Homo sapiens: one gene and its partner. The protein of the gene in region 1 interacts with the protein of each later gene in a pairwise test. Each region holds a gene or a part of one and is shown on either strand. Other genes may lie near its edges.

What was found. The genes of interacting proteins can lie anywhere in the genome.
Region 2: the proteins of DDX49 (region 1) and PSMB2 interact in a two-hybrid assay, tested with the Homo sapiens proteins (one large-scale study listed by BioGRID and IntAct).

Annotation. Positions count from the first base shown.
Region 1 is NC_000019.10:18,922,688-18,926,047, reverse strand, and holds part of DDX49 (probable ATP-dependent RNA helicase DDX49), read right to left. Parts: coding exon 3,304-3,360; intron 1,816-3,303; coding exon 1,740-1,815; intron 1,426-1,739; coding exon 1,349-1,425; intron 1,167-1,348; coding exon 1,069-1,166; intron 1-1,068. UniProt on the Homo sapiens protein: ATP-dependent RNA helicase that plays a role in various aspects of RNA metabolism including the regulation of mRNA export and the levels of pre-ribosomal RNA. Regulates the stability and synthesis of pre-ribosomal RNA and thereby regulates cell proliferation.
Region 2 is NC_000001.11:35,628,020-35,631,671, forward strand, and holds part of PSMB2 (proteasome subunit beta type-2), read right to left. Parts: intron 3,519-3,652; exon of another isoform or gene 3,417-3,518; intron 3,326-3,416; coding exon 3,255-3,325; intron 1-3,254. UniProt on the Homo sapiens protein: Non-catalytic component of the 20S core proteasome complex involved in the proteolytic degradation of most intracellular proteins. This complex plays numerous essential roles within the cell by associating with different regulatory particles.

The sequences.
Region 1 (3,360 bases):
GCTTGGCTGCCAGGGAACCCAGTCTAAGTAATGCCAGCCATTAGCCCTGACGGGCCTCAGCCCAAGATCTCTGCTTGCTGTTTTCTGTGACGTTGACTAGGGCCGAAACTGCACTGATGGTGGACAAGGTCCGTGACCCTCATGGCAGCCCCACGAGGACGTCACCATTCTCATTATCCACCATGTGAGGTCTAGGGAGTGGAAGTGACCTGCCCAGCACCACAGGGTCAGGATAGAAGGTCCAGGCCCAGTCCGACCCCAGCAACCACATCTTTCCTGGCTTCAGAACTGACAGCATCTCATGGACACCATGCCCCTCCCTGACGAGGCAGCAGCAAGTAGTGGGGGCCGGAGCTGTGTGTGCACCCTCCCAGGGGGCAGCCCCACACTGCTCAGTTCATCACCTGGCTTGGGTGAAGGCAGCACCTGACTTGCATTTGCTTTATTTTACAATTTTATTTTATTTACTTATTTTAGTTTATTATTATTTTTTGAGACAGAGTCTTACACTGTTGCTCAGGCTGGAGTGCAATTGTGCGATCTCCACTCATTGCAACCTCCGCTTCCCGGGTTCAAGCAATTCTCCTGCCTCAGCCTCCCGAGTAGCTGGGATTACAGGCACCCTCCACCACGCCTGGCTAATTTTTTTGTATTTTTAGTAAGACAGTGTTTCACTATGTTGGCCAGGCTGGTCTCGAACTCCTGACCTCGTGATCCACCCACCTCGGCCTCCCAAAGTGCTAAGATTACAGGCGTGAGCCACCGCACCTGGCCTATTTTATTTTATTTTTTTGGAGACAGAGTTTTGCTCTTTTTGCCCAGGCTGGGGTGCAATAGTGCATTCTCAGCTTGCCGCAACCTCCCGGGTTCAAGTGATCTTCTTGCCTCAGCCTCCCGAGTAGCTGGGATTCACCTTTGCTTTAGAAAGGACAACTCCCCAACTTGCAAACATGGCCCTGAGTAGCTCTCATCTGTGGGCTGCACCCTACCCACGTCCTACCACCTGAATTTGCTGGGCAGGCTGGAGGGACAGAGGCCCAAGGCTCGGCCTCCCCCTCCACTGCTCACCTGCACGGGCCGTCCGGCCGACTCGGTGGATGTAGATCTTGGGGAGCCCGGGGGTGTTGTGGTTGATGACCACCTGTACCGTAGGGATGTCCAGGCCCCTGGAGGCAGAGGTGGCTGGTCAGCTCCACTGTCCATGTGGGGAAACCGAGGCAAGGACTCACCCAGGGTCACTCAGCAGGGATGCTAGGGCTGCCTGACATGCCTGAGGCCAGCCTTCTCATCTGTGGGGCCTTGTAGTAAAAGAGGGAGTGCCCTTGGCAGGAGACTGGGGGCTGCTCACCGGGAGGCCACGTCTGTTGCGATCAGGATCCGGTAGATGCTGGACTTGAACTTGGCTAGGGCGGCAAAGCGTTCTTTCTGCACAGGGTTGGGAAGAAAATTGGGAATGCATGAAGGCAGGGTTTTCTGTGTGAGGCCTCGGGACAGGGTGGAGGCCGGGACAGTCCCCAGCCGTCCATTGAGGAAGGTGGCCATGAGAAGTCAGACCGGGACAAATGAATGACGGCTAAAAGAGATGCGGTCAGGGAGGGCCTCTTGAGCTGCGATATTCTGGGACCAGAAGAGACCAGGTGGCAGGAAGAAGGCGCCCGGCAGAAGGAAGGATCGGGGCCAATGTCTGAGGCGGGGAAGGTATCCCAGGGTGAGGCTGGCGGGCCCCAGGGTGGCCTCACCTGCTTCATCATGGAGTGCAGAGCCACGGTGGGGAAGCTGAATTTGCGCAGCATCATGCACAGAATCTGGCAGGTCCTGGCGGGAAGGATGTGCCTGTCAACCCCTCCAGCTCTCAGGTTCTGGGAAGGTGTTCCTGCCCCCACCCGCCCCTGAGACACCTAGCACAGTGGCCTCATGCAGCTTAGAAAGGAGAGGCAGCAGGCCAGGCACGGTGGCTCATGCCTGTAATCCCAGCACTTTGGGAGACTGAGGCGGGTGGATCACTTGAGGCCAGGAGTTCAAGACCAGCCTGCCCAACATGGCAAAACCCCATCTGTACTAAAAACACAAAAATTAGCCGGGCATGATGGTGTATGACTGTAGCCTCAGCTACTCAGGAGGCTGAGGCAGGAGAATTGTTTGAACCCAGGAGACAGAGGTTGCAGTGAGCCGAGATTGCGCCATTGCACTCCAGCCTGGGGGACAGCGTGAGACTCTCAAAAAAAAAAAAAAAAAAAAGAGGCAGGATGAGGGTTGACAGACGGCTTGCCTGCCTGATGTCCTCTCTGCTGATCCCTCCCTGGAGCTGGAACTGACAAGAGTTGGCCCTGGGACTGCAGGGCTGGAAGGCTGGAAACTGACTTGCTAGGGGTGGTCACTGTTACCAAGAAGGCCAAGAAGGAGCCAGCAGAGGAAAACAGAGGAGAAAGAGGGGCACAGGGAGAAAGGATGGGGACCATCACATAAGCTGCTGGATCCTGCCACGCCTGACAGCCACCCTGCAGCCAAACTTTTCTCTCTTTTTCCCTGAGACAGTCTCACTTTGTCCCCCAGGATGGAGTGCAGTGGCGTGATCTCGGCTCACTGTAACCTCCACCTACCGGGTTCAAGTGATTCTCCCGCCTCACCTTCCCCAGTAGCTGGGACTACAGGTGCTCGCCACCATGCCTGGCTAATTTTTGTATTTTTAGTCGAGATGAAGTTTCACCACGTTGGGCAGGCTGGTCTCGAACTCCTGACCTCAGGTGATCCGCCTACCTCGGCCTCCCAAAGTGCTGGGATTACAGGTGTGAGTCACTGCACCCAGTCCCAACTTTTCTCTTCTGGGAGGTAACGCATTTAAAGCGCCTTGATTTCTGCCCTTCTATCCTGGCTCATGCTGGAAGAGCCTCCAGCTTCTCAATGACCTTCCCAAACAATTCAATGAAGATATGAACTGCCCTCCCCAGGGGTCTCTGTCTGTGCAGACGCACACCAGGCCTGTTAGTTGTCACAACTTCCTCTGAGATGGGACTAAAGGCCCAGGAAAGCTCAGTGACACCCCCAGAACACAGCAAATGGGCTGCTCAAACAGCTGCTTGCAGGGGTTTCCTGGCCCTTCCATCAACGGCTGGGCTGAGGAACCCCAAAGGCCGGCTGCACCTTCAGATTGAGGGACCTTGGCTCCTTGAGGGAAGCCCCCATGACCTCCAGGCTGAGCAGAGGCTGGGGAGTGCTGAGACTGGCTGTGTGTCCCAGACCAAAGACGTCGGGCCACCTCCTCCTTTGAAGGGCGGTGGGAGGGGAGAGGCGGGCCCCGCTCACTTGCACGTGTTGGTGAAGATGATAATGGACCAGTCCTCGTGCTCATCCTGGAAGCGC
Region 2 (3,652 bases), on another chromosome or scaffold:
GACCATATAAATATACTAAATTTGGTGACTTTGCACTTATTAGGAACACTGACAAACTATCATCTCTCTTCCCAGAATAAGACGACTAAAATATAAATTCATATTTTAGAACTAAGAATCTATTTTGATAAGGAGATGGGGGAGCAGAGATTGGACCTACTGGAAAAGCTCAGGCAGAGGTAGTCAATATTTACCAGAGCCCCATGTCACTGTCTACAAGGGATATTTGTTAAGACATCAAACATTTCTGCTAGGAGAAGATTAAACCAGATTCACTGCATTTGCATGAAGCACACTGCCATTCTTATCTCAATTCCAAAAAGGAGCTTAATTCACTTAATGTCTGTGATATTTATGACACAGTATTTATTGTGCCCAAAGCTGGAATTCTTACTCCGGTTCTGCCTGATAAGTCAGAGGAACATCGTACATGGCAAGTCATAAAATGCTGAACACCACAGGAACTTCTGGGTGACAGAAAAACTAATATCTGACCCATTTTCCTTTCTCAAGGAGGAGTGAAGAAAAGACCACTTGGTGACAATGACTTTCTTGGAAGAAAAAAAAAAAAAAAAAAATATATATATATATATATATATATATATATATATATTTTTTTTTTTTTTTTTAAAGAAAAGACTACTGATCTTTCACCCAGGACAAAACAATGTATGTAAATTTGCCTCCTCCTCTCAATCCTACATGTCTCTAGCTTCTCTTCAAACTTCATGATCCCTCAGATTGTACAAGCCCTTGGTCAAAGCTAGCACTGAGAGGTACTATTTATTGAGAAATTATCAGTCAAAGATTATTAGGCACTAGAAAATAAACTGCTTTATAGATCTGTAGTAAGTAACTTTAAAAAAAGTAACTTGTTATTTTAAGCAAGTACAGATGAAAACTCAAACCATAATAAAAATATGAATAGCATCAGTGTTCTAGAAACACTACTGAAGAACCAAAGGCAGAATAGTCAAATAATTATGGCACCATTATTTTAGCTTTGTCTGACCTGCTGTGTGACCTGGAGCTAGTCCCTTTGACACTTTATGCCTTTCACTTCATCTCAGTGATAGAGACTATCTTTCTCAGTGGAATAGTGAGTAGATTAAATTATTAAGCAAAATGCTTTGGGCAAAAGTCACATGAATGTTAAATATTATGATTTACAAGCATTCATTTTCCTGGCACCCCTGTGGGGTTAGGAAGTTATCTCCATTTCATAGATAAGTAAACAGGCACAGGGGGTGAGATCACGTGGTAAGGCTCTATTTATTTAGTCCCTGTGGGAAGGGAATAACACACACCTTTAGCAACCATATGAACTTTCCTAGCACATCCTACACAATCTTTAATGCATTCAATCCTTAACTTAGTGTTGCATCTTTTAACATGCTGTCGATGAAATGGAGACAGCTCTAGAATAGCAACAAGGCTAGAATAAGTAAGGAGGAACAATGCTGTATGCTTTGGGAAAAAGTCATAGAAAAACACAGGTAAGTACGCCAGGTACAGTGAGTGGCTCATTCCTATAATCCCAGCACCCTGAAAGGCCAAGGCCAGCAGATTGCTTGAGTCCAGGAGTTCAAGACCAGCCTGGGCCACATGGTGAAATCCTGCCTCCACTAAAAATACAAAAAATTAGCCAGATGTGGTGGTGCACACCTGTAGTCCCAGCTACTTGGGAGGCTGAGGTGGGAGAATCACCTGAACCCGGGAAGTTGAGGCTTCAGTAAGCTGAGATCACACCACTACACTCCAGCCTGGGCAACTGGAGTGAGACCCCGTCTCAAAAAAAAAAAGAAAAAAGAAAAAGAAAAAAAGAGAAACACAGATAAGCAATCTCGAGATAAAAATCCACATTACCGGCCAGGTGCGGTGGCTCGCGCCTGTAATCCCAGCACTTTGGGAGGCCAAGGCGGGCAGATCACCTGAGATCAGGAGTTCGAGACCAGCCTGACACCTGACCAACATGGAGAAACCCCGTGTCTGCTAAAAATACAAAATTAGCTGGGCGTGGTGGTGCATGCCTGTAATCCCAGCTACTTGGGAAATGGAGGCAGGAGAATCACTTGAACCCAGGAGGCAGAGGTTCCAGTAAGCCAAGATTGCACCATTGCACTCTAGTTTGGGCAACAAGAGTGAAACTCCATCTCAAAAAAATAAAAATAAAAATAATCTGAATTATTATTTTCAAAGTTCTACTTTCACTAACACATAGAGACTTTCAGTCACAGGTATTAAGTAATATGGTTTGTTACAAAAACACTTTGAAAAAACTAAACGTACTCTTACTATATGATCCAGCAATCACACTCCTTGGTATTTACGCAAAAAAAAACTTATGTTCAAACAAAAACCTGCACATGGATGTATACATTAGCTTTATTCATATTGCCAAAACTTGGAAGCAACCAAGATGTCCTTCAGTAGGTGAATGGATAAATAACCTGTAGTATATCTAGACAATGGAGTATTTTTCAATGTTAAAAAGAAATGAGCTATCAAGCCATGAAAAGACATAGGGTAACCTTAAACGTGTATTACCAAATAAAAGAAGCCAATCTGAAAAGGCTGCATAATCCATGATTCCAACTATATGACATGATGGGAAAGGCAAAACCATGGAGAAAGTAAAAAGATGAGTGGTTGTCAGGAGTTGTGGGGATGGAGAAGGATGAATAAGTAGAGTACAAAGGATTTTTAGGGCAGTGAAAATACTCTGTATCCTGTAATGGTAGATACATGTCATTATACATTTGTCCAAACCCATAACATCCACAACAGCAAAAGTAAACCCTAATGTAAACTATGGACCTGGGTGATTACTGTCAATATAGGCTCATCATTTGTGACAATGTATCACCCTGGTGGAAGATGCTGATAATGGGGAATGCTATACATGTGGGTGAGGAGGAATGTGGGAAATCTTTATACTTCTTCTCAATTTTGCTGTGAACCTAACACTGCTCTAAAAAATAGTTTTTAGGGGGAAAAAAAAAGGGTAAGTTGTCACAGGCCTTCATATTGGTGTGTCCCAACCAATTCTCTGGGAATGAATATTTGCCCTTTGGGCTGTACCTATTAATAACAACTGTGCACAAAGACATTGGACTTAAGAATGAACAAGTAGCAACAGGAGGGGTTCTGGAAGGCCAAAAAAGGGCAAAAATACTACTCATGTATAATGAGAATATAAAAGAAGCACAAAGGATTTTTCTGCTCTATCTAACAATGTCTGATATATTACTTACCCGACTCCGAAGACAGTCAGCCAGGTTTCGGCGTGTGAAGTTAGCTGCTGCCGTGGGAGACAATTCATATCCTGGTAGAAGAGATAAAGAGTCATACTTAAAGTAAAGCAGAAGGAATAACAGTGCCCCAAATTATTCACTACCCCTGTTCCTAAAGCCCACCATCTTTTGTACACTCAGAGTAAACAAAGCATAGACTGAGGGGTACAATCCTACTCTAGTCCCTTTCCTCATGCAACAGCTATGAAATAGCTGGTTAGTACTGACAGCAATTCTTGGCCACAAACAGAACCAGTTCTATAGTGGAATGAAACTTCTAGCAGCCTTGCTTAAACTATTCATTCATCAACACACTGTGGTTTCTGCCGTAGAAGGAAAGGAACACGAATACACAAGAA